Linked DNA regions of Homo sapiens. The protein of the gene in region 2 purifies or fractionates together with the protein of the main gene of each other region. This does not show direct contact. Each region holds a gene or a part of one and is shown on either strand. Other genes may lie near its edges.

Evidence for each region.
Region 1: the proteins of CXXC1 (region 2) and BOD1L1 purify together in Homo sapiens (affinity purification with mass spectrometry; 6 studies listed by BioGRID and IntAct, with this or other methods). This does not show direct contact.
Region 3: the proteins of CXXC1 (region 2) and SETD1B purify together in Homo sapiens (affinity purification with mass spectrometry; 12 studies listed by BioGRID and IntAct, with this or other methods). This does not show direct contact.
Region 4: the proteins of CXXC1 (region 2) and WDR82 purify together in Homo sapiens (affinity purification with western blotting; 7 studies listed by BioGRID and IntAct, with this or other methods). This does not show direct contact.

The regions. Positions count from the first base shown.
Region 1 is NC_000004.12:13,624,724-13,632,219, forward strand, and holds the start of BOD1L1 (biorientation of chromosomes in cell division protein 1-like 1), read right to left. Parts: upstream 3,003-7,496; 5' UTR 2,865-3,002; coding exon 2,622-2,864; intron 1-2,621. UniProt on the Homo sapiens protein: Component of the fork protection machinery required to protect stalled/damaged replication forks from uncontrolled DNA2-dependent resection.
Region 2 is NC_000018.10:50,284,672-50,292,100, forward strand, and holds the start of CXXC1 (CXXC-type zinc finger protein 1), read right to left. Parts: upstream 3,022-7,429; 5' UTR 2,919-3,021; coding exon 2,916-2,918; intron 2,838-2,915; exon of another isoform or gene 2,755-2,837; coding exon of another isoform or gene 2,752-2,754; intron 2,188-2,751; coding exon 2,069-2,187; intron 1,969-2,068; coding exon 1,868-1,968; intron 1,587-1,867; coding exon 1,351-1,586; intron 1,258-1,350; coding exon 1,078-1,257; intron 681-1,077; coding exon 654-680; intron 577-653; coding exon 331-576; intron 169-330; coding exon 61-168; coding exon of another isoform or gene 49-60; intron 1-48. UniProt on the Homo sapiens protein: Transcriptional activator that exhibits a unique DNA binding specificity for CpG unmethylated motifs with a preference for CpGG.
Region 3 is NC_000012.12:121,800,054-121,807,026, reverse strand, and holds the start of SETD1B (histone-lysine N-methyltransferase SETD1B), read right to left. Parts: upstream 3,019-6,973; 5' UTR 2,794-3,018; intron 2,654-2,793; exon of another isoform or gene 2,638-2,653; intron 2,304-2,637; 5' UTR 2,290-2,303; coding exon 2,116-2,289; intron 1,910-2,115; coding exon 1,811-1,909; intron 1,193-1,810; coding exon 922-1,192; intron 1-921. UniProt on the Homo sapiens protein: Histone methyltransferase that catalyzes methyl group transfer from S-adenosyl-L-methionine to the epsilon-amino group of 'Lys-4' of histone H3 (H3K4) via a non-processive mechanism.
Region 4 is NC_000003.12:52,254,637-52,261,657, forward strand, and holds part of WDR82 (WD repeat-containing protein 82), read right to left. Parts: intron 6,844-7,021; coding exon 6,744-6,843; intron 5,866-6,743; coding exon 5,749-5,865; intron 5,237-5,748; coding exon 5,081-5,236; intron 4,631-5,080; coding exon 4,561-4,630; intron 4,043-4,560; coding exon 3,900-4,042; intron 2,884-3,899; coding exon 2,854-2,883; 3' UTR 1-2,853. UniProt on the Homo sapiens protein: Regulatory component of the SET1/COMPASS complex implicated in the tethering of this complex to transcriptional start sites of active genes.

The DNA.
Region 1 (7,496 bases), on a different chromosome or scaffold from region 2:
TGGTACTTCTCATCCTGGTTTAAACACACTAAACTGGATGACAGTTTTGCTCTTAGCACCTGGCAGGTATCAAATGTCTTCATTCTTAAATATGCACGTGACAGACATAATCCACTATAACTCTATATGCTACAAGTTAAGACTTTTTGACAGAAAGCAGGTCAGTCTTTGAGGTTCAAGTGGCAGATGAAACTCAAGGATTCCATTAAAGTGATGGTTCTTTGCATGAACAGGGAATCTTCTACTTTGGCCCACGGTGGCCAGGCATGAGCCACCGGGCCTGGCCATACTGTTGCTTTTTAAAGTTCCTGCATCTGTGGCTGAATATGTCTTATTACTAGAAGAAGGGTTGATCATCAATTCTATTCCTATTTCTAATTTTTATAGTCATGCGCCCTGAGAAACCTTGTTCATATAAACAAGTACTGTGCCTCGGAATGGAAGAGTTTTGTTGTAACAATATCATTCAATTCTTGACCTCAAAAAAGAGGCTAAGAACATTAAAATAGGTTCTTATTCCATGGTTCCTGAACTCACTGAAACTGTATATGTTATTAGATTGATTCTCATGAAATTGCCTATAGTTGACCATTCTGAAGTAGAAAAACAGCGTTTTAATGTGTTACTTGCGCATTTTTCTTGAGAGAAGGTCCTAACTTTCATTAGATGATCAGAGATACTGTGCTTCCCTCCTTCCCTCCAAAAAAGGTTTTAATCCTTTACTTTGAAGGGTCTGGCAGGGATATTATAGACACATACCAATAACATTTTGTGGGAATAGGATAATAAAAAAGTTGAGCCTCAGACATTGCAGCAGTACATTACAATTTTTAATTTGTATACATAATGATTCATGGGTTTCTGAGAACACACAGATTCATGGGTTTCTGAGAACAGCAAAGTAAAAATTCCACTTGTTGAATACGAATAACTAACTTTATTTGATAACATTTACCTGGCCATGTCTAACCTTTTCCCATTAAATAACAACAAAAATAATAAAGGCAATAGAAATTATTTCTAAAAGGTAGCAGTGCATATTCCTGAAGACAAAAGTAAAAAAAACTATACTTCCTAAATAGATGAACACTCCCAAGTGAATTGAATTCTCTGTGGTGCAAAACCTCCAATATCCCGAAAAACCACGTTTTACATAGTGGGCCCAGTATGAGTCCTTATAAAGGAAGATGTACCAGGATATTCAAGAGTTTCCCCAGAAGACATAGTGGAACTGTGTGCAGTTCACCTGAAAGCTTTAGAAGAAACTGTGGATGTTGTAAACATGCATTTCTCAAAGATACAAAGCTCCTCAGAACAACTAAACATACTATGAGAAAACCCTCGACCGGGCGCGGTGGCTCATGCCTACTGGGCGAATCACGAGGTCAGGAGATCGAGACCATCCTGGCCAACACGGTGAAACCTTGTGTCTACTAAAAATACAAAAATTAGCAGGGCGTGGTGGCACGCGCTTGTAATCCCAGCTACTTGGGAGGCTGAGACAGGAGAGTCGCTTGAACCCGGGAGGCGGAGGTTGCAGTGAGCCGAGATCACGCCATTGCATTCCAGCCTGGCGACAGGGCGAGACTCTGTCTCAAAAAAAAAAAAAAAAAAAAAAAAGGAAACCCTCATTTCATCAAAACTCCAATCCAATGGACCCAACCAGATTTAACAAGCAGACAAAAACAACCCCTACAAACCAGTTAATTTTCCAACATGCTTTCTGCTTCCAGAATTCTAGACTGTACTGTGGTTTTCCATCCATCTCACTGACTGCTCTTTCCTGGTGTCTTTGGCTAATTCTTTGCCAATCCAGCTAAGTTTACTTGTTCCTGCTAATGTCCCTTTCACTCTGACATTTGGTACAAAATCCCTTCCCCTTTCCAGCCTCTCTTTCTGGACAGGGAACCTTGTTGCTGTCCTTTCCCTTCTCTACATTACTCTCCTGAATCTGCTCTCTTTCCTGTCCTTTCTCCACTTCAGTATCTGCTGTCACCTCTCCTGCATCTTTTCTCCACTGAATGACTCGGTTCTCTCTACCCCACCTTCCTGTCCCTTCTTACCTTAGAATGGTGACATGGCCTAAGTTACCTAAATCAGGCAATCACTGCTAGAAACAATACTAAAGTCCTGTCTCAGGTTTGCCTCCTTATCTTTGCGCTCCCACCCCCACGATGTCCAGCAAAGCATATTACACATAACTTGATTCAATTACCATTTAGTCATTTCTCCAAAGGATAAAGGCCCTTACCGCCCAGAAACCTTCAAGAAAGAAGGCAAACATAACTTCGATACAAAGTAAAATCATCAGATATGAGAATGAATACAAAACTGGCTACTGTTAGCGCCACTGTTTCCAAACCAGTTCCTGTAAGAACAATGCCTTAGTCTTGCTCATCAGACCGGGGTAATCACTGTGCCGAAACCATGACTGGCACGTAGTAGGTACTTAAACACTAGTCGGTAAAACGAACCAAAGGACACGCTAAGGAATGAACACTCTGTGCTTTGCACAGTCCGTGGCACACAGCTGCAGCTCCAAGAGGAAGCCACTGCAAAAGAAGCGCGCCCTTGGGTCCTCCCCTTCCCTCGCAGACCCCCAAACCCGGCGCGCTCCTAACCTTGGTGTCCACGTCGGCCAGGCAGTCTCTGCGGAACTGGTCGAAGAGCCCCTGGCTCTTGAGGTGGTTCACGATCATGGCCACGAGCTGCGGGTCCCCGGCGCCCGCACCCGCGCCGCCCGCCCCGCCCGCGCCGGGGCCAGCCCCGGGGCCCGGCGGCGGCGGCGGTGGCTGCGGCTGCGGCTGCGGCGGGGGAGGCGGCGGCGCCGGAGGAGGCGGCTGCGGCTGTGGGTTGGTGGCCATGGTGGCCTGTGCCGGGGAGGGCAAGGGCCCTGACCGGCGGACGATCCTGGGAGGCGGCGGCTGCACTGGTCCCGCCGCCTGAGGGAAGCCAACGGGATGTTGTTACGGAACCAGCGGATCCAGAGCAACCCCGGAAGTGAAAGGGAACTGGGGGAAAGGAGGAAAAGACGGTGACAACATTGACGAAAGTCCGGCGACGGAGGCCGCGAAGAGCCAGTTTCGACCGTCGCCGGGCGCAAGCGCCCTCGCGAGGCCGAGCTGCGCCGGAAGTGGCGGCGACTGTGGCGACGGAGACGACAAGACTGTGCTGGTCGCGGGTTGTGGGGTTTAGGTCACCGGCAGGGGTCTGGAGTCCCTGGAGGTTAGGGCTTCGACCCGCGCGACACCTGGGGCCCTAGGTCTGAGCGGGGGCAGTGCGTTTCTGGCCCCGCTTCATCCGCGACGGCATTTTAGGCCTGCCTCTCTTGCTCCAGTTTCCCGGAGCAGTGCATAGAGATCCATAGACATTTGTAATGCGAACCCTACGTGGATCTGCTCATTCTAACTTCGCCCAACCCTCTTCGTTCTTAGCCTGTGATCCTGCACTATTCTTGTCCCAGCAGGTAGCTCCAAGTTCCTTCTGTCTCTCTTCTGCCTGCACATACCATTTCCCCGTGGGGGTCCCTTGTTTCTGGCAGTGTGCCTGTGGATTAGATCCGATCCCTCCAGCCCGTTCTTCCTATCTGTGAAGACAAATCGACAGGCTTTTATTTTTAGGAGATTTGCTATTGATTACTATGATTATAGCAGGTAAAACATCTATAGCACATATTATGTACCAAGCGTGGCGTTAAGTGCTTTTACATGTATTAACGCATTTAATCTTTGGACAAACACTAAGAGCTAGGTCTGATTACTGTCCCCAGTTTGCAAATCAGGGAACCAAGGCTCAGATAAATTAAGTATGTTGAGTAAGATTACACAGCTAGCAAATCACCTGCTTTTGGACTGCATCATCTTTGAAATTATTATTAGTACGTGGTCAAAGCAACATAAATATTAGAAAATTTCATAATTACTAAATAGTGTGTGTAACTTTATTGAAAAATGCATATTGTTGCTTTTTAAAGTTCCTACATCTGTGGCTGAATATATCTTATTAGTAGGAAAAGAAGGGTTGAGCATCAATTCTATTCCTATTTGTAATTTTTATAGCTGTGTGCCCTGAGAAACCTTGTTCATATAAACAAGTACTGTGCCTAGGAATGGAAGAGTTTTGTTGTAGCAATATCATTCAATTCTTGACCTCAAAAAATTAGATTTGATTATCTATGAGCTGACTTCAATTAGGCCCTCCTTCTATTTTATGGAAAGCAAAGAGCTGAAAACCACCTGGCTTGCCAAAGGATTTGTTTACTTAATCCTTATTTTTTCACTCTTTCAGATTCTGGGAAATATACCAGATAGGTTTTACCAAGATACCAAATGACTATGAATTAGACCTGATTTTTTCAATGAGGTGTACCTTTCACCTGATATACTGAAAGTTTGGAGAATATCTAAACATTTTTCATTTTCATAAATAGTTTTGGATAAGATTTATTTTTGTTATCAGGTGGTTAAATTATGTTTTTGTCAAAATTTGCAACTGCAGATTTAGCTCATTCAAGTTCAAAATCTTTGTCACTGGGCACAGTGTCTCACGCCTGTAATCCTAGCACTTTGGGAGGCTGAGGCGGGAGGATCGGTTGAGTCCAGAGTTCAAGACCAGCCTGGGCAACATGGCAAGACCCCACCTCTACAAAAAAATAAAAGAAATTAGGCGGTGTAGTGGCGTGCACCTGTAGTCCTACCTACTTGGGAGGATTAGGTGGGAGGATCACCCGAGCCCAAGAAGTCAAGTCTGCAGTGAGCCATGATGGGGCCAGTACACTCCAGGTTGAGCAACAGAGTGAGACCCTTCTCAAAAACAAGAAAAAAAAAGGTTTGTTAAGAATGTTAAATGTTTACCTTATAACCTAATTAACAGAGCCCATTTTCATTGTCAAACTAGACAAATCAGATTTACTTTAAATCAGAAACAATTTGACTTCATTGTTTCAATTCAGAGTATCCTGTGTGTTTTGAGGAGTTTGATGAAGATAGCAGAGAGGAGAAAGTCATGGATATGAATCTTAAAAGATTAATTACTATATGCAGTCAAGGCTGGGCGTGGCAGCAAACCCCTGTAATCCTAGAGCTTTGTGAGGCTGGGGCAGGTGGGTGGCTTGAAGCCACAAGTTCAAGACCAGTAACAAAACAAAACAAAAAAGTAACCAGGTGTGATGTTGCAGACCTTGAGAAACTGAGGTGGGAGGATTGCTTGAGCCCAGGAGGTTAAGACTGCAATAAGCTATGGTGGTGCCACTTCATTCCAGCCTTGGTGACAGAGTGACACCCTGTCTCAAAAAAAAAAAAAAAAAAAAAAGCAGTCAAGATTACAAGACTAAAATAGCGTAAAATATAAATGTTTTATTCATTTTAAAAATTAGTTATGAGCCGGGCGCGGTGGCTCACGCCTGTAATCCCAGCACTTTGGGAGGCCGACATGGGCGGATCATGAGGTCAGGAGATCGAGACCATCCTGGTTAATACGGTGAAACCCCGTCTCTACTAAAAATACAAAAAATTAGCCAGGCGTGGTGGTGGGCGCCTGTAGTCCCAGCTACTTGGGAGGCTGAGGCAGGAGAATGGCAGGAACCCGGGAGGCGGAGCTTGCAGTGAGCCGAGATCGCACCGCTGCACTGTAGCCTGGGCGACAGAGTGAGACTCTGGGTCTCAAAAAAAAAATAAAAAAAAATAAAAATTAGTTATGAAAAGGTGAGACTATAACATTTACTTAATTACCAACAATACAATATAATATATGTTGCTATATTCTAAGTTTATAAGTTTTTAAGTGTGTGGTATGATAAAAAGACATGGTATTTCTTTGGTATATTTGGATGTGTGAATCAAATTTATTCAGCTTTTTGGGAATAACTAAGTAGAAATCATCCATAAAAGTTCTGAAAAACTTTACAAATTTAATTAGGCATAATGTCCAAGTTTAAAAAAGTAATGAGACAATAAAGTATTTACTGCTAAAAATGAATTGGGTCAGTGGCTAATAAATAATTTGTTTTGTGAACAGTATATAGAAAATCTTAAATATTTTCTACAATGCAAGAAGATGAGAACTTTATAATGGTTCACAATCCATTTTCTCAAATGTGCCCTAATTGCCTTATTGAATAACACACACTGAATCTAAAAGATACATCTTTGTATCTCTGAGTTCAAGTTACACTGGGTAGACACATTATACTGGTTGCAATGTAACTTGAACAATTTTGTAGCCTTGAAAAACATTCTAGATACATTGAAAAGAATCTGGGTCACCGATCTGCACTGCCTTGGCTGTTCCAAGGTGATTTTCTTTTCGTATGAATACAGGTCCTAGGGATGAGTGTTTTAAATACCCAAAAAACAACAACAAAAAGCATACATTTAAATCTTTTTAAAAGACTGCTTTAAGCAGTCAGCATTTCCTACCAATGACGTCTTTGCTGTGTTTCCTCCTGATTGTCTCTCTAGAAAAGAGTATATAATTTCTTTTTTTTGGTAAATTATTTTATTTCTTCCATGATGATTTAGAGGGACTATATTCAAACCAGTACAAATATTTCATAAATAATATCTTGCCATTTTCTAACCAATTGAGTAATTTGTTCCACAATAAGCTACCTCACATTTTTCAGCAAGAAATACGTTAAATTTGAACAGTAAAGACATTACATAATGAATTAGGACACAATTAAAATGTGCTTTAAATATTTCTTTAAGGGAGAAGACACCACACTTCTACTCAATGAAGATAAACTTTTTTTTTTTTTTTTGTGACGGAGTCTTGCTCTGTCGCCGAGGCTGGAGTGCAGTAGTGCGATCTTGGCTCACTGCAAGCTCTGCCTCCCAGGTTCACACCATTCTCCTGCCTCAGCCTCCTGAGTAGCTGGGACTACAAGTGCCCGCCACCATGCCCGGCTAATTTTTTTTGTAGTTTTAGTAGAGACGGGGCTTCACTGTGTTAGCCAGGATGGTCTCGATCTCCTGACCTCATGATCTGCCTGCCTGGGCCTCCCAAAGTGCTGGGATTACAGGCATGAGCCACCTCGCCCAGCCGAAGAGAAACATTTTTGCAGTCCAGAGGTCTTTTATTTTTTTAACACTTATTTTGCCATGAATTCATAGGGAATAGATTCCAGCAGCTCAGTCTCCTTCCCATTGGTTCTCACAAACTGTGCTTCCCTGGGTGGAGCAGGCTGGCACTTCAGTTGAACCCAGGTACCTTTCTCTTTGTTTTCTTTTTCTGGTCATTTTCCTTCATGTGTTTCAGGAAGCTATCTCGGCTCTTAGTGAGCTTAATGTGCTCGATACGCACATTAATTCTCTTGGCAAGAATCAGGCCCTTGTTGGTATACAACAATGCCAGCAGCGTGCTGGGTAACATTGTAGACTCTTCTAGTTGTGCCATGGTAACACTTGTGGGGCATTCCTTTTTGAACAGTAGCCATTCTCTTGATGTCTACAATATCACCTTTTTTTTTTTTTGAGACAGGAGAGAGAGTCTCACTC
Region 2 (7,429 bases):
TCTGCCTCTCCCTCAACCCCACCCTCTGCCTTTCCACATCCACTTTACCCTCTCCATCACCTTCTTCTCAGACTTCTTCTCCCGACGCTTCACATGCTTCACTTTCACTGCCCTCTTCCGCAGCGCGGGGTCCAGGAATGGGGACTCTTCTGTGTCGCTCATCCAGGGCTGCAAGCAGGGCATGCACTGACCCACCTGCCCCGCTCGTGACAACCCCACCACCTACTCATGTCCCATATCAGCCTTCCATACCCTCTGTCTCCTCATTAGGGATACTCTCTGCTTCTGTAACCTCCACCCTTCCACCAGTGGATGCTCCTGTCTGCTCACCAGGCCATGGTCATCAAAGGCCCCTGCACAGAAGTCCTGATACAGGTCAGGATCCAGAGGTAGGTCCTCATCTGAGAGTGGCTCAGGTGTGGCTGTAGCCTCAGGAGGCTCCTTGACTGTTGATGACGCCACTGCCCCCTCATCTTCACGGATGCGCCCTAACTTCTGTGATGGCTGTGGCTGCTGTTGGGTGGGCAGTGGCCGGCGGGGCCTTGGCAGGGACTCTGAGGGCGTCACTGGTGAGAGCTGCAGGGCAGAATCTCAGGACTGGCCCTGACCGCCCTGCCCGCATGCCCCACCCCACCCTGGGGGGCTGGACTCACCGAGGAAGGGAAGTACTTGTACGATTCCTGTGCCGGCAGGAGGAAGGCCCAGGTCAGCCCCAGGTGGATGGAGGGCGGCCTTGCCCTAGCCCTACCCACCTGGCCTGGCCTTACCTCCCCAGACACACCTCCCCGCTACCCCTCATTGCCAGGAATGCTCAGCCCTGCCTGATCTGTACCAACATGCATGACCACCTGAAAACACCTGGCCCCACTCTGTCTACCCAGGGTTGGTGGGGGTGTTCTGCCAGCCCAGCATACCAGGTCATGCCCCATTCATCTGGACATGACAGGCCCCTTCCCACCTGTCAGGATACAGTCAGGCCCAATCCCACCTGGTTTATCCATGCCTAGACTTAACTAACCATGCATGGACCCACCAGCTCTCCCACACCTGACCCTACCCAGCTCTGTCCATGCTCACCCGGGCCCGCAGCTGGCACTGGCGCAGCCGGCACTTCTGCCGGATCTTGTTGGGGCCCCCGAACTTCTTCATGTCCCGACAGAAATCACAGTGACCACAGTCCTCAGTGCGCCGACATGCCTCACACTCACCACACATGCGGGCTGACCGTTTGATCTGCTGCTGCTGCTGCTGGTGATGCTGCAGGAGGGGGCCCAGAACAGAAATCATGGACCCAGGCAGGGCTGAAACGGAACCACTTTACACATCCATTCACTTTATGCAGCCACTCACCTGGCTGGGTGTGGCCACCAAGGGCTGCGGAGAGGATTTGTGGGGCGAAGCAGAGCCCCGAGCAAGCATGGCCCCAACCCCTGTCCCTGACCCTGCCCGGCGCTGCAGGTCTGGATCAGGGACAGGCCTCTTGCGCCCTCCACCCTCATCCCGGGGCTCACTGCTGTCCCGCTCATTGCCATCCCGCTCCCGTGACTTCTTGTGCCGATAGCGAATCTCTAGCTTGGGGTCTTTCTCTGTGGGGCAGAGAGTAGGGCCAAAGTGAGTGAGCACTGGATGGCTTGAATGGTCCCAAAACCTCTTTCTTCCTCTTCGCTCCCTTACTGACCCACCCACCTACTCTGCACCCCTGTCCAGGGCAGAGCTGCCTCTTCCCGTGGGATCTTCTATTACTCACAATGGAGCCCCATTCCAGCTCACCACAGACGTGTATCACTAATCCCCATAACCCCCCCTTGTGGCTCCTCCTCCTCCCTTGAAGCCCCACCTGCCTTCCCTGTCCATCCATGGCCCTCACCTCTGCACTCCCGACAGTACCACTCCCGGATGGCCTTGGCCATCTTCTCAGTGATCCGGATGCAGTCCCCATGGAACCACTCATTGCAGTTGTCACACCCGCTGCAGAGGATGGGGCAGGCGATGGAGATGTGAGGGGCGCGGCCCATCGGCCTCACCCCACCCTGCCAGTGTCAGCCCCGCCCATCTCTCCCGCGCTCACATCATGAAGCAGTTGATGTCCGGTTTGCGGCAGATGCAGTAGATGGGCGCATTCTCCCCATTCTCGGACTTGCTGTCCTCCCCGGCATCTGGAGGCTCTGGGTCTGAACCATCTCCCTCCTGCAGGACACCCCCATTACGGATCCTTAAGCAGCCCCCACCGTGGCGGCTCATCCCCCCATTACAACTCCACCGTGGTCAGCAGGGATCCCCACTCTGCCTGCAGATTTCACATCGGGGCCCCCAAAAAACCTCTCCATCACAGTCCCCACTGACCCCCATCCCTTCCTCTGACATCCTATTACTCTGCTCCATACTTCCCATCACGCACCCACCGACACCCGCTCCCTGCGTCCACACTCGCTAATGGGTCATGGCGACCCTCCATCGTGGCGCCTCACAGACCCCGCGTAACTCACTGCGGACTTCCCATCGCGGTTCTCCACGCACCCCTCCCTGTTTATCTCATAGACCCACCTGGCACCCGCACCCACCCCCAGTCGCGGCTGTCCACGGATACCCGGACACGGACTCCTCGTCACGGCTCACTACAGACCACTCAATGTGACTCCTTACAACCCGCTTATCCCTCTGCCCTAAGAACCCCCGATCATGGTTTCCCACGGAACTGCCACACGGAGTCCCCACTAAACTTCTATTAAGGAGCCCCCCACCGTGGCTCACCATAGAACTCCCAGATGGTTCATCATTCTGCCCATAGACTCCCGCCGTTCAGTCCACAGACTCCGGTTATGGCTCACCACAGACCCCTGAGTCGGCCGACAGACCCCACTGTTGCCAACCGACCGACCTCCACCGCCGAACCCCTCCCTGGACCCGCTACTTACCATATCTCCGCTCCCGGCGCACTCCCTCACGACCCCCGCCAGCGACCCGCGAACCTGCACAGACCACTCGGCGGCGTCCCAGGCGGTTGCAAAGGCGCCCACAACTACTTCCGCTTCTAGTCACGCCTCCCAGGCAGCGTACTCCTATTGCGCAGGCCCCATGCGTCGTCTCCGCTGCAAACCAGTAGGTGGCCGGCCTAGAGCCCCCAAGACCCCTCAGGCGCCGCCATCTTGCTTATCGTATCCGTATGGTGGCCGAATCCATATGTTCGCCGGGAACATGGCCGCGCTCTAATGTGGCTTTCCCGAGGGCGCCGCCACCTTGTCAGTAGAGTCCGTACGGCGGCTGCTTGTACGGCCTCGACGTACAGGCAACATGGCTGCACCTACTGCGTGACTTCCTCATAGATGCCGTCATCTTGGAATCCGATTCCGTACGTGGGTCGAATTCCGTACGTTCCTAGGCGACATATGACGGCGACCTAATTGCGGATTCTTCACGGGCGCCGCCATCTTGGTGGTTGATTCCGTACATTGCCCGTTTGTCAGGCAGAGAGGTTCACAGGTAAAGTGACCGCTTCCGAAGCACGACCTGGATCAAGTTGTATTCATTCCTCCATTCAGTCTCTTTCCCCTTCCACATGTATTAATGGGGCGTCGGCAGGCTGTGTGCCTTGCGGGGCGGAGGAAACCAGTTCCTCTGTCGTCTCCGACTTCACCTGCCACCACTCTTTCCGGCTTTTACTCCTCCCACTTGTCATTCTTCTGCCAGGCCTGGCACGGTTCGGCTTCTATTTATTTTATTTTTATTTAAAAACAATTCTTAAACTAATATCAAATCTTATTTTAGTTCTATAAGCTGCACAATAAGCCTAAACACAGTTTACTTATCCATTTCTTTATTGTTTAGCATTTAGAACATTTTCAAATATTATTCTAAATAAAGTTGCAACGAACATTCTTAAACATAGATCTGTATGCTCATCCCTGATTATTTCTTGTGAAATGTGATATACAAATTTACAAATATACAAATGTGATATACCAGGTGTAACTCTGGTTAACAGCTGTAAGATGGAGCCTGGAAGCCAGGCTTTATTTATTTATTTATTTATTTATTTATTTATTTTATTTATTATTTATTATGTATTTATTTATTTATTTTTATTTATTTACTTATTTTTTGAGACGGAGTTTCACTCTTGTTGCCCAGGCTGGAGTGCAATGGCGCGATCTCAGCTCACTGCAACCTCCGCCTCCCGGGTTCAAGCGATTATCCTGCCTCAGCCTTCCGAGTAGCTGGGATTACAAGCATGCACCACCATGCCCGTCTGATTTTTTTTGTATGTTTAGTAGAGATGGGGTTTCACCGTGTTGGCCAGGATGGTCTGGATCTCCCGACCTCAGGTGATCCGCCCGCCTCGGCCTCCCAAAGTGCCGGGATTACAGGCGTGAACCACCGCGTGCCTGGCCCGCCTGGAAGCCATTCTATGGACTCCCTGCAAACTTGCAAAAAGGAAAACAAACAAAACAAAATTAAAACACAACAGGAACTTGCCTCGAACCTTTGAATTGGTCCAAACTGCAATGACCACACAGTCCTGGAAACCAGCTATATTTCACTAGTGCTGCGTCTCCTGAACAACAACCAATGAACTATGGACTGATGCCAGCCAGCCGCCTCCACCAATAATAATTTCTTTAAAAGAACTTGTGTAATCACCCTTAGCTTCCTTTTTCTTTTTCTTAAAAACTCCTTCTCCCCTTCCTATCTTTGGAGTACAATTTGACTTCGAGCTGAATCTGTGTCTCCTGAATTGCAGTTCCTAATGCCCCAATAAACTCCTGCATTGCAGCTTGGTCTCTTGCCTCTTCTTAGTTGACTCTCCTTAGAGATAAAATTCTAAAAGTAGAATTACTTTGTAATTGGCTATAAATATTGTAAGACATGTTCAAATTTATAGGAGGTCATTAGTTTGGACAGAGCTCCTGCTCTAGGCCCCACCAAAATGGAGTCACTCACGCTGAAGTTCCATGCCACCAAGCCAAAACTAAATTGTTCATCTGACCTTCCAAGGAGAAAGAGACAGGATAATAGCCAAATCCCCATACAAGCCACTTTTAGCTTGAAAGTCCCCTTTGCTTTAACCTTTATAAAAAAGCAACCTGAAGCAATCTGATGTTAACCAATCAGCTTTAAAAAAAAAATTGTTCTTTTTCCTTGCTCCAACCTTACAAAATTCACTGCTCTGCTATTTCCCAGGAAAAGCTCTCGTTCTATTTTGTATAATGGGATCTGCCCCAATTCATGAATTGCAAGTAAAAGCCATTACATCTGTAACTAAATTTGTTGTAATTTTGTCTTTCAATGGTTGATACATATATTTCTACCAGCAGTGTATGAAGGTTCCTATATCAGAGCCTTATTAGGTTATTAGATTAGTGCGAACTTTTGTTGTTGTTGTTGAGACGGAGTCTCACTCTGTCACCTAGGCTGGAGTGGAGCGGGCAATCTCGGCTCACTGCAACCTCCGCCTCCTGGGTTCAAACAGTTCTCCTGCCTCAGCCTCCCGAGTAGCTGGGATTAGAGGCCCGTGCCACCACACCCAGCTAATTTTTGTATTTTTAGTAGAGATGGAGTTTCACCATGTTGGCCAGTCTGGTCTCTAACTCCTGACTTCAAGAGATCCACCCCCACCTTCGGCTTCCCAAAGTGCTGAGATTACAGGCGTGAGCCCCTGCGCCCGGCCAGTGCAAACTTGTAAATTCATCACCCTTGTCAGTAAAAAACTGTCAGCATTCACAGCCATTTTATAAATACTACACATTACCACAGCAATATAGTGCAAAAATCAGAAACCACATAAAATACATATTTAAAGGAATGAGATAAAAATAAATATAAACATCTCTCATATTTTCTCAAATCCCCAGCACCATCTGAAATGCTGCCCTTGAGGAGCTCCCAGTTTACACTATTGGTGCTCACTTTGATCTGTGTGCAGTCTGGTATGGACATGGTGAAGCAAACAAAGATTAGTATTTTGTCAAATAGTAAATTTTTCATAAGTCTAGCTTGATGATGATGGTAATAGTCATAATTTTAAAAATCTTCTATTTGGTTAATGGTTGATAGTTCGCAAGATACTTTCGCACATGATAGTTTATCTGATCCTAATTGCCTTATACGGTGAATGGAGCAGGAGCCTTATTGTCCCCACTCTGCAGTGAAAGCAATTGAGACTCAGGGAGCCTAAGTCCCTTGCCAGGTCACACAGCCAGTAATAATGGATCTGATATTAATAGTAAAATCTTCCTACTGTGAGTGTTGGGCTGTGGGCTGGAATCAGGGAATAGACTCAGGGAAGCCCCAGGACGAGAGAAGCTAGATAAAAAAGTTCATGAGGCAAGCACAGAATGGAGCAGATTCTGAAAGCTAAGGGTCACAGTGGACCTGAGTTCAGGAAATGGATCAGAAGTCCAGGGGATCAGACACCAGGAATCAGGATTAGGTTCTTAGGCAGGAGAACAAACAACACAGAATGAGAAACTAAGTACAGGATCTCAGCACAAGGTGGGGATCACAGGAAAGGGAAAGGAGAGCTCAACTCTACCAAAGATTCCTGGGAGGGGGACGGAAGTCTTCCAGACACTTCTTGCAAACAGCAAGGATGACATAAATATCCGAAATTCAATGACAAAACCATGCTTAGCACTTCAATTCTAATTTGCCAGCAAGCACAGACAAAATCAGTACTGGAATCATTCGCTGAGGAATATACACAGTCTTGCTTTCTGAAGTTTTAGTTACCCATGATCAACCATGGTCTGAAAATATTAAGTAAAGAATTCAAGAGGGCTGGGCACAGAGATTCATGCCTGTAATCCCAGCACTTTGGGAGGCCGAGGAGGGAGGGTTCCTTGAGCCCAGGAGTTTGAAACCAACCTGGGCAACATAGCAAGACCTCGTTTCTACAAATTATAAACACTTAGGCCGGGTGCAGTGGCTCACGCCTGTAATCCCAGCACTTTGGGAGGCTGAGGCGGGCAGATCACGAGGTCAGGAGATTGAGACCATCCTGGCTAACACGGTGAAACCCCGTCCCTACTAAAAAATACAAAAAAGTAGCCAGGCGTGGTGGCAGGTGCCTGTAGTCCCAGCTACTCAGGAGGCTGAGGCAGGAGAATGGCATGAACCCAGGAGGCGGAGCTTGCAGTGAGCCGAGATCACTCCAGCCTGGGTGACAGAGTGAGACTCTGTCTCAAAAAAAAAAAAAAAAAAAAAAAATTAGCCGGGCATGGTGGCACGTGCCTGTGGTCCCAGCTATGCAGGAGGCTGAGGCAGGAGGATTGCTTGAGCTCGGGCTGTCCAGACTGCAGTGAGCCATGACTGCATCACTGAACTCCAGTCCAGATGACAGAGCAAGATCCTGTCTCAAAAAAGAAAAAAAAAGAAAGAAAATTCCAGAAATAAACAATTCATAAGTTTTAATTACCATGCCATTCTGAGTATT
Region 3 (6,973 bases), on a different chromosome or scaffold from region 2:
CCTCCCAGGCAGGGTTTCCCAGGGGACCCCGGTGGGCTAGGGACCGAATGACATCTCCCCACAAGCTGGCTGGCCCTCAAAGCACTCGGCACCTTCTTTTATAGGTGGGAGCTTCCCTAAAGAGGCCTCAGGCACACTTTGGGGAATGCCCTCGAGTCCTCCAAGCCCCTTGGTCCTGCAGGGGCCTCCGAAGACCCACAGGGTGGGAGGTATGGCCTCCCCAGCCAGCTCCAGAGAGCACCTAGCTGATTCCAGAGCAGGGGAGGTGCTGCGGTCTCTTTAAGAGAGAGGAGGGAAGACACAGTGTCAACCCTTGAGCACCCAGAGCCGCCTGCCTGGCTCTTCCCTCTTCCCGGCTCTGCTCTTCCCCGGCGGCTCTGTCGAGAACCTTATCAATGAAACAACACTCCTGGCCCCAGATTGGCTGCCACTTCCAGAGGGGAAGGGGCAGCAAGGAGGTGGGGGGACACCCTGGATCCTTAGAGGACTCTCTTTTCAGTTTTCAGACCTTCTCTTGATGTATTTCAAGGCATCCTAGTGGCACTTCCTCAGTCCCCCACAAGTAAACAAACTCTGTCTCCTCCCCTAACACAGGCAACACTGGGGACTGTCTAAACCCAAGCCACCAGGGCTCAGAGAGGGGGCCCGCGGGGGTGTCAGCGGTGGGGAAGCCTCCGGGTGGTCCCTAGGGGTGCGGTGGCCAAGGACCGGCACATTTGGTAAATTACAGACTGTCTCCTAGCAACAGACAACACATTTAGCTCCACGCGACTCTACCCTCAGGAGGGGGCTAAGAAATAAGGTTGTGGGGGGGGATCCCAAGGAAGAGTGAGGGGGGGTCCTCCCCACGCTGCAGGAAGGGTGGGGAGGGAAAGGGTCGGGCTGACAGGTCTCCCCACGCTCCTCCCCTGCCAGGCTCACCTTTGGTGTCCAGCTCCACGTGGATAATGTTGCCCATGACGGAAGTGCTGTGCAAGTGCTGAACGGCATCCTTGGCTCCCCGGACCGTGGCAAAGACCACCTTGGCGATGCCCAGGTGCTTCTTGGTCTTGGGGTTGTACAAAATCTCCACCTCCTCCACCTCCCCATACTTCTTGCACATGTCCCTCAGGAAGTTTTCACGGATGTTATCATTCAGCTTGGCAAATGTCACCTGCTTCGGAGGCACCGGGCCCACGTAGAACTCATCGATCTGGCAGGGGCCGAGGGGGAAGGGAGTTTGAAGAACGTTTAAACCTAAGGGAAAACACAACATCCCCCCCGCCCCGCCCGCAACTCGCCCACCCGTTGAAAACAATAAAGGGTAAAAAAACTAAAAATTAAAAAAAAAAAAAAAATTTTTTTTGGAAAAAAAAAATGCACGCGGGCGGGCCCGGGAAGCGGAGGATTAAATCGTTTGGAACGTGGAAGTCCTCTGGGTTCGGAAGGAAAGGGGAAAAAGAAACAGTTTCTCTTTCCCCACCCCCCTTTCTGGCCTTCTCTTCCTGCTGCCGGGTCAGGGGCGACCCCTCAGGCTTAAGAAGTTGTCCTGTAGTGGGCTAGCGAGAGGGGAGAGTCTCGGAGCCGAGCCCCCCGCGGGGCGTGCAGGACACTGTATCTGCGCCGTGATTACAGTTTCACCCAGTGTTATTTTGTTTTCAGTAGCTGAGAGGGGACACCCTCTCGCCAGCGCTCTACCCCTCCCCGCCAAAACTTCCCTGGCCCCGGACGGCGGGAACTGGGAATCCGGCTGGGCTCGGTCAGGACTGGCGTTATTTTCGAACTCGGGGAGGTGGGGGAGGGACGGCGGGGCAGTGGGGAGGGGTCCTACCTTGAATTTGGGCACCGACAGCTCCAGCTCCTTGTTTTTGGTCCAGATCCCGACGACCCGGGGATCTTCGACAATTTCCACCGGGCGGTTGCTGGACATCTGTGGGGAGAAATTGGGGGGCCGGGATGAGAGAACTGGTCCCCCTCCCCATGGGCAGACCCCTTTCTCGAGGCACTTGTCAAACTCCAGGGCTGGGGCCCCGTCTGACAGTTGGCCGGGGGATCGGGCGGGGGGTCCCTGGCCGCTAGGCGCGTCTCCCCGGACACGACGCGGGGCACGGCTGGGGGGGCGCGCCGGCTACTCACCGCCAGGCTGAAATGCTGCCCATCGTAGCGGTACAGTTTATGATGCCCCTTTTTCAGAGCCGGGTCAATCATCAACTTGTAACTTCTCCAATGGTGGTTCCTCCTCTCGCCCGAAGGGCCGGGCTGCGGCGGGGGCTGCTGGTGGTGGTGGTGGGGGGGGTGACTGTTCTCCATGCCGTTAACCCAACCTGAAAACCAGCAAGTTGTTGTCGTCTCCGCCGCGGCGGCGGCGGCGGCCGCTTCTACACACACGCGAAAGAATCCAATCGGCAGGCCCCCACCCCCTCCCACCTTGCCAGCGCGCCCCGAAAGGAGCTGTCTCGCTGGCTCCCCCCAAAACAAGAATGGAGCGAGAGAATAACCCTTCCGGGAGAATTACGCGCCCGCCCGCTCGGCCACCGTCTCGGGGCGGCAGCGAGGGGCTCCCGGGGGTCCCCTGGGCGGGCTGGCGGGGCCCGGGGCGCCCGGAGGACGCGGACTCCGGCCCATGGTGCCCGCCCGGCCGCCCGGCGTGGCGCTCACCCGCTAGCTCGGCCCGGCTCTGGCGCGAGGCTGGCGGCAGGGCCTGGCGGCGCCGCCGCCCGCCCGCCCGCTCGCCCGCTCGGGCCAGGGCCGGGGCCGGGGGCTTGGGCCGCCCGGCTGCCGGCCGCGGCCTCTCCCTCCCCGAGCCGCGCTTACATCCCCGCCGGGCGCCGGCCTCCCTGCGCCGCCAGCCAGTACATGGTGTCCCCCGAGGGAGCCGAGGCCGGGGCGGCCGGACCGGGGGCCAGGAAGGGGGGGCGCCGCCGCCGCGGCTGCCGGGCCCGGAGCTGCTGCCGCTGCCGCCGCCGCTGCTGCTGCTGCTGCCCGGGAGGCGGCTGGCGGCGGAGGCTCGGCTCCCAGTAGCCGCACATCCCACAATACACCGCTAAGGAGCCCGACCCGAGCGCTCACCCTCCTCCTCTTCCTCCTCCTCCTCCTCTTCCTCCTCCCCTCTCCTTCCTCGCCGCTTCCCCAGGCACTCTCCCGGCGGCGGCAGCTGCGCCGCCAAAGCCCCGGGCCCCAGCGGCCCCCCACCCCTCACTCGCGCGCTCCCACACTGCCTCCCCCTCCCCGGGGGAAGGCCTTTTAATTTATTTATTTTTCTGGGACTGGGGTGGGGGTCTTGGCTGGCGGGGGAGGGGGTCTCCCCGGGCTCTACCTCCCGCGGCCGGGACTACCCTCAGAGCCGCGACCGCCGCGGCGTGCGTCCCGGGCCTGCAAAACTGTTTCCAAACTGCCCGGGCCGGAGGCGGGCGCGCGGGGCCCGGGGAGATGGCTGGGGTCTGGGGGGCCGAGGGTGTGTGTGGACGCTGGGAGCCGCGGGGGGAGGCCGGCGTCGACTCAGAGGAGTTGCAATCGAGGTATCTGCGCTCCGGCTTCCTCCTGCGGCCCGCGACCCCCTCCCCGGAGCTGAGCTGGGGAAGGGAGACCAGGGTTCACCACGTTAGCATTCGCATTCCTGGGAGGATGCAGCCCTCGCCTGGACCTGGGCGATAGACGCCTTCTTCTGTTTTTATTTTTGGAGGGGAGCGCCCTGTAATTGTCCTGAACACATGCTTCCCCCCCTTCCTCCAGCCACCCGCGGAGGAGAGAGTCCCCCTTTTTTGCATTTATCTTTTCCTTCCCCTTTCTTTATTAAAGGTCCGGGAGTGGCGGCGGCCAATCAGCGCGCGGCTTCCATTTTGTGAGTTCAACTCCGAGGCTCCCGGGCTTCGCGAGGACGCGTTTGCAGCCCCCTCTGCCGCTCCTCTCTGGCGGCCGAGGCGCAGGAGCCGCCTCGCCGGGGCTCGGAGCTGGTGTAGCTCATATTGGGGCTCTTTTCGGGGTTTGTAATTTGGCCGTGGGTAGGTAATTGGCTGGAGCAGGGCGGCAGGGCGCGGCAGCCAATCAGCGCGCGGCTTCTATAGGGCTTGAGTTATTAGACGCTGATCTCAAAACATCCTTCATCAGACACGAAGGAGAGGCCAACAGATGAGGGAAGCCATTTTTCTGCAATGGAATTAAATGGCCAAGTGGGTTTTTCCTTTGTTGCAAATGGGGAATGTTTTTCCTTTGACTCTACCATCCAGTTCAGGACGTCTCAGTGTGTTTAACATTTGTCAACAGGCCCAAGGACTCACAGTTGGAAGACTGGAGAAGACTTTTTAAAAAGATCTGGATTTTTCCTTATGACTTGGAATCCATCTTTGTCTTGTATAACTAGGTCATAGCACACCATTCATGTCAGCAGTTAACAGTTTTGAATTCCAAAAAAACCTAAGTAAATGACATATTTTTTTTCCTCTTTTTGTTCTATGGGTGGGTGGGGGGAGCTTGGAGCTGTCTTAATCTGTATTCTCTTGACTGAACAATAAATTTTTAAATATATCTAGTTTCCTCTATTAAACACTTAAACCTGGCCATCTTATTAACTCCTTCTCTCTTTTTAACAAGGTAATGTTTTAAATGTATATAGCTTTAGGACTAGCGAAATGGCAGCAACAAAAAATTGTGAGCAGTTGTTACTCTTTTAGTTTTTAAAAAACCTTTTACATTGTAAGTACCCAATCCATTCTGTCCTGACGCAGTACAGTTTTGATGTTAATGTTGCTGAGATGTCCTTAATTTTCCGAACCTTCATCTGCATGTATGTCTTTGTCTCTCTTGTCTAATATAAGCCAGTTAAGATGCTTGAGACGATCTTGCTTTATAAAGCTAAGGTTCTAGCTTTATGCTTTTGAAAATGTTTACAGCACTAAATGCTAGTCAGCTTTCTTCCCCGTAGCTTGTACACTTTCTTTGAAAATCGATCTATTTGAAGAAAAACAGCCCTGTTTTTCTCGTCTTTGGTGTTGGGGGTTGGGGGGAGCTGGTGGGTGAGGGAAAGGAAGACCTTTTCTTTGTGTAGAGAGACTAAAGCCGTCACAGGAAACTAGATTAAAACTGGAAAACAAGTCCTAGCTGGTTCCAGCAAACACCAACGTTAAGTGGGGGGTATTTTCTATGGTGGTTGGGCGGCTGGTGCGTCTTGTGCCTTTTGTTTGATTTGACTGTATTTTCGCCTTTTGTCTCTTAATGACGATCACACCATTGCTATATCCAGAGCAGTAAACAGTCCTCAGCGAAGCCGCCTTTTTGCCTACCCAACCCTGGAAAGTTTGCAGAAGTGGAAGGAGCAGAACGTGAGGGTGTAACTTACAAAAAGGTAATAAGAACAAAGACACCACCATAACCCCCAAATTTCCCAACTAAATCAAAAAATATATATGTTTTTACAATAACGTCTCCAAAACCACCGCCCAGCTTGATCTTCTAGACTCCATGGCACCGGGCTGAGCGGGTAAGTAAGAAAGATAAAAAGTGCCTTTTGCCCCTTCGAGGAAACCCTTTTGCAGGCCAAGCAAGGGCTGCAAGTGTTTGGGAGCTGAGAGGAGAAGGAGGATTCTGGAGCATTGTATTTGGCAGCCGGAGCGGGCAGTGGGCGGGGGGTTGGGACACGAAGGGCTCTTCGGACCCCTGTGCCTCTTCTGCCCCAAGGGCGAGAAGACGGGCTTCGCAGCGACCCTCGGGGGTCCATGGAGCCGCCTGCCTTCGCCCCCTCGCTCTTCCCAGGTCTGAACCTGGATGGGGAGAAGAAATTGAAGTGCTTTGGAGACGGGGGGGCTTAAAACACTAGGGAGCCTCATCGCCCAGCCTTGGGCCCACTTTCCTTTCGATCGTGAGGATTCCGCACCCCGAAGCCGGCTTCTCGGGGCTCCGGGGCGCGCCTGCGCTGGCAACGCGAAGGAGGACAAAAGGCCGGCGTCCATGTTGGCACCATGACGCAGCATCTCCGCCCGCAGCCCGGAGCTGCTGTCCTCCCGGCCGCGCTCGCTCCTCCTCCCAAACACCAGTTTTCTTTACAGGCTTCGAGCCCGTCGCGGCTGGGCCGGGCTGGTCTGGCAGGCGGGCCCAGCCGGGCAGGGCTGCTTTGCTAATGGCGGCGGCTCTCTTTCCTTCCTTCCTCCTTTCCTCCGTCCCCCCGGTCGTGGGGAGCCCGGAGCAGGAGGCGGGCCCGCGGCCAGGTCGGGCCCCGAGAGCCCGCGGGGCGCAGCGCTGGCGACCGGGTGTCGGGGGCCGTTTCGGGGGCCGTGGGCCTCGGGGGCGTCGCGCGCCGCGCCTCCCGCGCTCGCCTCAGCCGGGCGCGGCGGCCTGATGGGCGCCATTTCGCGCGCTGCCCGTGGCTGGGGCGGTGGCGGCCGCCGCGCGCCGGGCGGGAGGAGCGGCAGGGGTAGGGGGCTGGGCGACCCGGCGGCCCACGCGGGCACCAGGAGGCCTCGCCCCGGACCGCTTCCCTCTTTCGTCTTTGTCCTGCGCGGGCGCCCGCAGCCGAGGGCCACGGGGTCGGCGGGGCTTCGAGGCCGCCCCGGGTCCCACCGGCTCCTCCGGAAGCCGCGGACCGGCCTGGCCCTGACCCCAGGCCGCCCCCCGCTGCCCACCCAGCTCTGGGCGCCCAGGTCCGACCTCCCAGTCGCCCTCTGAGAGCCGAGTCAGCGCGGGGCGGGGGGTCGCCCCCTTTGTCCTCACTCAGGGCGGGAGGCCCTCGGGGTGGCCGCAGACGCCCCGTTGGGCAGCCCTCCAGCCCAGCTCTCCAGGCAGGAGGTGGGGGAAGCCTGGGAAAGCGGAGGGGGGGCCCCGGGATCCCCCGAGGCGCGGGGCTCCCGGCGAAGCCTCAGATCTCCGGCCCTTCCCGGGGAGGGTGCGGGCGGGGCGGGCCTTTGGAAATGCAGATGAGCCGCCGCCCGGGCCGGGGTTGAACCTTCTGACTCAGCCACCCCCGGCCGCCCGGGCCGCTGGGGGAGGGGCGGCGTCTGGGGTG
Region 4 (7,021 bases), on a different chromosome or scaffold from region 2:
CCTTAATAAGCAGTAATTATAATTACAACGGGAAATAATTTCTTTAAGTACCCAGTGCAGTGTCACTGTCAAATAAACATCAGTGGCTTTGGCCCCAATTCTTAAGGTGGCAAACGCCGCTGCCCCACTCCCCACCCATCCCCAATAGGGCTTGAGCACCTGTAGCCCTGCTGAGCACGTCTGTGCAGCCCCAGCCCTCAGCATCTCTTCCACTCGCTTCCAGCTATATCTTTTCCCTTTCCTTCTTAATTCAGGAGGCAGCTTTGCAACCACAGGGCCCAACGATAGAGACTGTGAGGTGGCATTTTTTTTTTTTTTTTTTTGAGACGGAGTTTTGCTGTTGTTGCCCAGGCCGGAGTGCAATGGCACGATCTCAACTCACCGCAACCTCCGCCTCCTGGGTTCAAGCAATTCTCCTGCCTCAGCCTCCCAAGTAGCTGAGATTATAGGCGCATGCCACCACGCCCGGCTAATTTTGTATTTTTAGTAGAGATGGGGTTTCTCCATGTTGGTCAGGCTGGTCTCAAACTCCCGACCTCCGGTGATCCGCCCGCCTCGGCCTCCCAAAGTGCTGGGATTACAGGTGTGAGCCACCGCGCCCAGCCTTGAGGTGGCATGTTTTCAAAGAACATGGTGCTCAGTTTTGGACACACAGGAACTCAAATACAATCATTTTCCTGCTGCTAAGTAATGCTTGGTGGCTGCTCTGGTTGCAGATATGTGAAGTTAGGTAGCCTTTCCTGTTAACCCATGGTTCCAAGCACTCTCTCTTAACAATCATTCCTACTGTGAATTTTCTACCCGGAAAAGCCAGGGGTGGGCAATAACAATTAAGATCATTTGGTTTCTAAAAGTTCTTCCTCTCTGGGAAAGCAGAACTATACAGTGGGTGGCATCCTGCAGATTCTAGTCTACATTTGGGAAAGGTGTACGCCTCTTGCACTTTCAGAGGAACAAGTCAAAAAGTAATTGCTTAAAAAAAAAAAGTGCTAGCAATTCACAGCCTATTCCTGCCCGCTGAACAGAAATTGTGATGCCTTGATTTACCCCCTAGCAGCTACATATTCTTGAGCAAGTCATAACCCTATTGTGCCTCAGTTTCTGGATCTGCAAGGAGTGTTGCCTGCATAAATGTTTGTTTAGGAACTTAGTAAAATGACATACTCCTCTCTCTGCTCTAAGAAGGCCATGAGCCAGCTGCAGCTCATCTCACTCAGCCTGGGCCTGACCAGAGTCCTTTCCTCTTCCAAGAGAAAGCAAGGAAAAGCAGCAAGCAAGCAGACATACCAGGTCAACAGGAGTGATCTATCATTGGCAACGAGGCCTCAAACAAACTGCAAATGCTCTGGCTTCAGCACCTTATCCCCAAATGCCACAAACCAGACATGGAAGCCATGCAAGAGTGACTATCACACACACACACAGGCACAGACAGAGTACCACCAAGCAAAAAGGGGGCTAATACTGCAGAGATGGCCCCAAAGTGCAGCTTGAGGAACACAGCAAGTCATCCCAAGACCCTCACTTAGCTGCCAAAGAAACAGCAAACACTATCAGCTTTGCTTCAGTCTTCTGAAATGAAAATATTAATAAGGAAGACTCACTAATACTTGTGGCAAACACTATTAGCAGGGATGCAGGGTGTCTCCTGGGCTGCAGGACTCCATCTGCTTCAGCTGAACTCTTGGAAACTACAGATGAGAGATATATGCATACGCACACACATATATGCGTATCTGTATGCACACAGATGTATTTAAATGAAGGTGCATACACTGTGCTAAAATACAAACAACAGAAATCAAAGGTCATATATAAAAACGCTAAATATGACATATAACACAGGCCTAGAACCAGCTCTTGGTTGGGAGCTGGGGAAAGGGGTGGTATCATCTGAAGACTATGTACACAATTTGTGGTGGGCAGGGAAGGCATCAGTGTAAACAACTCAGACTCACTTCACAATACTGGCCCACAGGTAAGTGTGATGTATCTCATGTACAAAAATAGACTCCCACCTTGCTTTTGTACAAACCAAGCTTGGTAGGCACCCAGGAGGACCGTGGGTTTGTCTTGATGACAGGGCACTGCACCAGGCTGCTGCTAAACCTTCCAGCCCTAGGAACTCACCTGCTACCCTCCCGCTACCCTCCCCTTTCCCTCCCTTTCAGGCCCTTGGGTCTTTTTCCCACCCAACACCTACAGCCCGAGGCCTGCCCAACCACCTAGCCTCACACGACTAACTGCAGAAACTAACTGCATGGCTTCCTGCAAGCAAGGTCCTTCTGTATCTGTCCCTTTCTCTGACCCCAAGATATATGAAAATGTTTCTGTAAATGTTTGGCACCTAAGAAACATGATGGTTGTGGATAATGCCACAAGTACACAGGGAGACCCAGTAACAAGACATGCAGGGTGAGGGCAAGCGGCTGAGCTGCCCAAGCATTTCAAAACCAGGACTTTGGCTTCCCATGCAGTTGGAGGGTAGAAGGGATGTGCGGAACTGATGACTTCACCGGCTCCTCAGCAGCATGTACATTCAAATTGAAGATGCTTGAGAGCCCCACTATACCAAATCGTGAGTCTGGTCACTCCTCCAGCAGAGCTTGGTGCAGTGACAGTTAGAAAAGCTGAGTTCCAATTGAGTCTGTTGCACCAAGAGTCCTTTTGAAGACGCTCATCAAAGTAATTATTTTCTTTTGAGCAGATGTACAGCACATCCATGGGAAGGCCATGTAAAAGGATGTTCTCCAGCCCAGTCAAATGATCCAATCCCACTATTATCTCAGTTCCCTCTGAGTTTCTTCCTGCTGGCCGCCCTCACTATACAGAAATAGCCAAGCAGCAACAGGGTCAGTCATCAATGGTGGGCAACCAAAAGGCCTAGAAGGAGAACATAAATCAACTTTAAAAAGCCAAGCATCTCCTCACTGCCAACGGTTCTTCACATCCCACCCCACAGCAAAAATGTGCCCAACCCCAGTGGCTCTGGTAGCCCTCTCTCCTAACCAACCAACCCCGATGCTCTAAGGAGACAGAAACACTCTTTCCTCTATGTGAAAGTAAAATGGTTCTGTTTTTCTCCAATAATCACTGTCCACCTTCCACCAAAGCAGACCCCCCGCCCCCTTTTTTTTAAAGGAAGGGAAAAAAAGGAGTGCTGCCTGGGAGGTGGGTGAATAAGTAACCTGTCCTCATTGCTAATCCACCAGGTTACCTCCAACAGGCCCCCACCTTCCTGGGCTGTAAAAAGTAAGGAACTGGATGGTTTTGCTGTATTTTTTCTAACATTTTTTTCTTGGTTAAAAAAAAAAAGCAAGGTGGCAATGTGCTCCGGGTAGGCTAGTAATGAAATGTCTCATCCCCGAATACCCAGGCAGGTTTAGGAGATCACAAGGGAAAACTGGAGCTGAGACTCACTGATCCTTTGTTCTGTTAGTATTATCTAGGAAGAGATAAGGGCCTGGAGTTAATTCTAAGTGGTGAGTTATGACCAACTGTAGAAATTTCTGGGAATTTGGCGTAAACCAACAGGAATGGAAAACTGAAACCACAAAAGGCCGGTTCAGAGTATTTTAAGGAGCAAAAAAATTGCCAAGCATAGCCCAGGTAGTTTGGACCTAAAATTAGGGTCCAGAGCAAAAACTGGCCTATGATCTCCTTGGAACTCAAAGATGATTCCTGATCACCTCTAGGAAGAATAAAAATGAAAGGCAAGACCAGCCCAGCCAGAGATCAAATAATAGGAGATGAAATAGGGAAACCACCAGTTGAGAAACATGTACTTGGATGCTTGTAATGTACCTATGTAGAACACAGCTTGCTGTGCTTGTTGAGGCACCCACCACCCCAACTGGGAAGGGTCCCTGAGTAGCAGATACCTCTTACTGTTCACATACCATGTTGGAACACGCACTGGCAAAAGTCATGAACTTGGGGTTGAATTGCAAACAGGTAATCGGGCCTGTGTGTTTACCATCCAACACAGCTACTTTTATACCGCTCTCTCCATTCCAGACATGGATCTTGCCATCCTCTGAACCTAAAGAGGATATTCACGGAAAATGTAACAGCTCAAGGCGCAATACAAAGACAACTGGAAATGAGACATGGATTGAGATCTGAGGATACGCCAAGCTTTAGGACCCATCCCTCAGGCAAAATTGAGAGGGAGGAGAGGCAGTGAAGGAAGGACACTTTGGAAATTTATCTTGACCCTAGCTATTTGTTCACAGGCATGTCACTTCCGTTCTAACTTCAGTTTTCTCATCTAAAAAAGGGGCCGAATACCATTACCCTACCAACAGGCAGCCACTAAGATGACTGAATGTAGGGTTACACCAGGACATTAGCATTACTAATAAGGTAGTGCTTGTGGAGTTTAACTCAAATTTTGGTCCAGTCAGGGCAGTTAAAAGACACTATGTCCTTGGCATAATGTGCTATACAGAAATCTAAGAACATCTATCAAATAGATAATAATGTCTCAGTTAATAATTTAAACAAAGAAATGCATAGTACCAGAGAAATAACCCCCACAGGGGATAAAAGGAAACTCACCAATCATAATAAACTGAGAGTCTGGAGTAAATGAAGCCTCCAGTGTGACAGCTTTGCTGTTGGCATAACCCTAAAACAAAACAGAGCAGTTCTTTTGTTCTTACAGAGCCATTAATAAAAACAGCTGCCTACAAACACTGACTCAGCACATGCATCACCTTCCTTTCCATGAAACCCTTTCCTTGTCATGTACTACACCACCAAGCTTCCAAATGTGGTTGCCATCGTTGACAATCCACTCCCACCCTCAACTCTGTATTCAAGGCATACTCAAGGGGGCAAGAAAACTTTATTGTTAGGAAATTATTTTATATCTAAATACCAAACTTGGGTCACTTGGTGAGAAATGAACATCTACGAAATCCAAGAGAGGTAAGTTCATGAGCAGGAAGAAAATACAAGTGCATGCCTTCATGAGTAAGTCAAGAGTAACTGTTGGTCTCCACCAACCAGCTAACATAATTCTTAGCATAGGAAGTATGAGCATGGAAACAGCCATGCTTGAAGGCTGTCAGCTCACCCCAAATGTGTGCATCACCACTCCTTTGAATGCATCAATCAGACGAATGAAGCTGCCGTTGGTGGAAATGAGGATGAGCTTGCCATCATTGCTGAATTTAAGTCCTGTCCACTCACAAGTTCGATCATACTGCATCTTAAAGGTAGCAAATGGCCCCTGCAAAAGATAAAAAACAGTAGCCCCAGGCATATTAATAATTTCTTCTGCTAGAGCCAATTCCCATCCTATTCCTTTAGATTACTTTTTGACTAAGGAAAGCAGAGAATGAGCTACTTCTCTGCCACTCTCTAATATCTACCACATTTTTCCTTTTGTAGAAAAGGCTCTTACAGGGCCGGGCGCGGTGGCTCACGCCTGTAATCCCAGCACTTTGGGAGGCCGAGGTGGGTGGATCACCAGAGGTGAGGAGTTTGAGACCAGCCTGACCAACATGGTGAAACCCATCTCTACTAAATACAAAAAATTAGCCAGGCGTGGTGGCGGACACGTGTAATCCCAGCTACTTGGGAGGCTGAGGCAGGAGAATCACTTGAACCTGGGAGGCAGAGGTTGCAGTGAGCTGAGATTACACCACTGCACTCCAGCCTGGGCAATAAGAGCAAAACTCTGTCTCAAAAACAAAACAAAACAAAAAACAGCTCAAAGATCTCAAAGATTCAAAGATTTACCTTATCAAAAGAACGAAGGTCATAAAGCTTGACCATTTCAGAGTTGACACCTGCAGCGAAAATTAACCCTTCTGGATCAAAAGAACAAACTGGCTTCCCCTGCAGATGCATGAGGCCCTAAGAGAAAAGAAATAAGAAATACACTAAAACACACATGCCACAACCATACGTGGAATAACCAAAGACTGCTGGTACAATGGGGAAAAAAAAATGAATCCAGGACCTTACCACTATATAATTTACTTTTCCCAATTAAAACTAAGAAAGGCATACAAACAAATATCAGCCTACCTACAGAACACACACAAAAAAAACATAAAACTAAAATGAAGCTTTTAAAAAACAGGTCTCCAGACAACAATTTCTGATCAACTCTAACTGCACAATATTACAGACACAGAATTCAAATAAAAATAAATCCCTTGAAGCTAAAAGCTCTAGGAACACTTTTAAAAACATTAAGCCAGCTGGGCGCAGTGGCTCACGCCTATAATCCCAGAACTTTGGGAGGCCAAGGTAGGAGGATCACCTGAGGTCAGGAGACTAGCCTGACCAACATGGAGAAACCCCGTCTCTACTAAAAATACAAAATTAGCCAGACATGGTGGTGCATGACTGTAATCCCAGCTACTTGGGAGGCTGAGGCAGAAGAATCGCTTGAACCCTGGAGGTGGAGGTTGCGGTGAGCTGAGATTGCACCATTGCACTCCAGCCTGGGCAACAAGAGCGAAACCCTGTCTCAAAACAAAAACAAAAACAAAACAAAACAACAAAAAACCCACAACAATTAAGCCACAGAGTACAATGCAATCTGCACTAGATTAGGGTATGTGCTTAGCAGCTACCAACTAAAAAAACAGATTTTCTCCAAAGTTTAAAAAGACCCTGTGATCCCAGAATGGAACCACTGTTTTCTCCCTTCTTTGAGAGGTAGAGTTCATTACAGTGCCTACCAAAGAAAATGCTCAAAAAGTATAACTGTGAGGTACCATTACCTGGCAGTTAGGAGACCGGAGATCCCAGAGTCGAATGGTCTTATCAAGAGACCCAGAAATGAAAGTGTCATCCACAGGTGACATGGACAAGGCCACCACCCTGCAATACATCGAGATAAATAGGAGTTGATGCGAAATATTAGCAAAAATTGGATGTGAATTCTAAACCACTCTGCCTATCTATACATATATATACCTGTTCTCCCAAAATTGCCATTTTAAGAAACACAATAAAACACACATACCACAACCATATCTGGAACAAACAAAGGCAACTA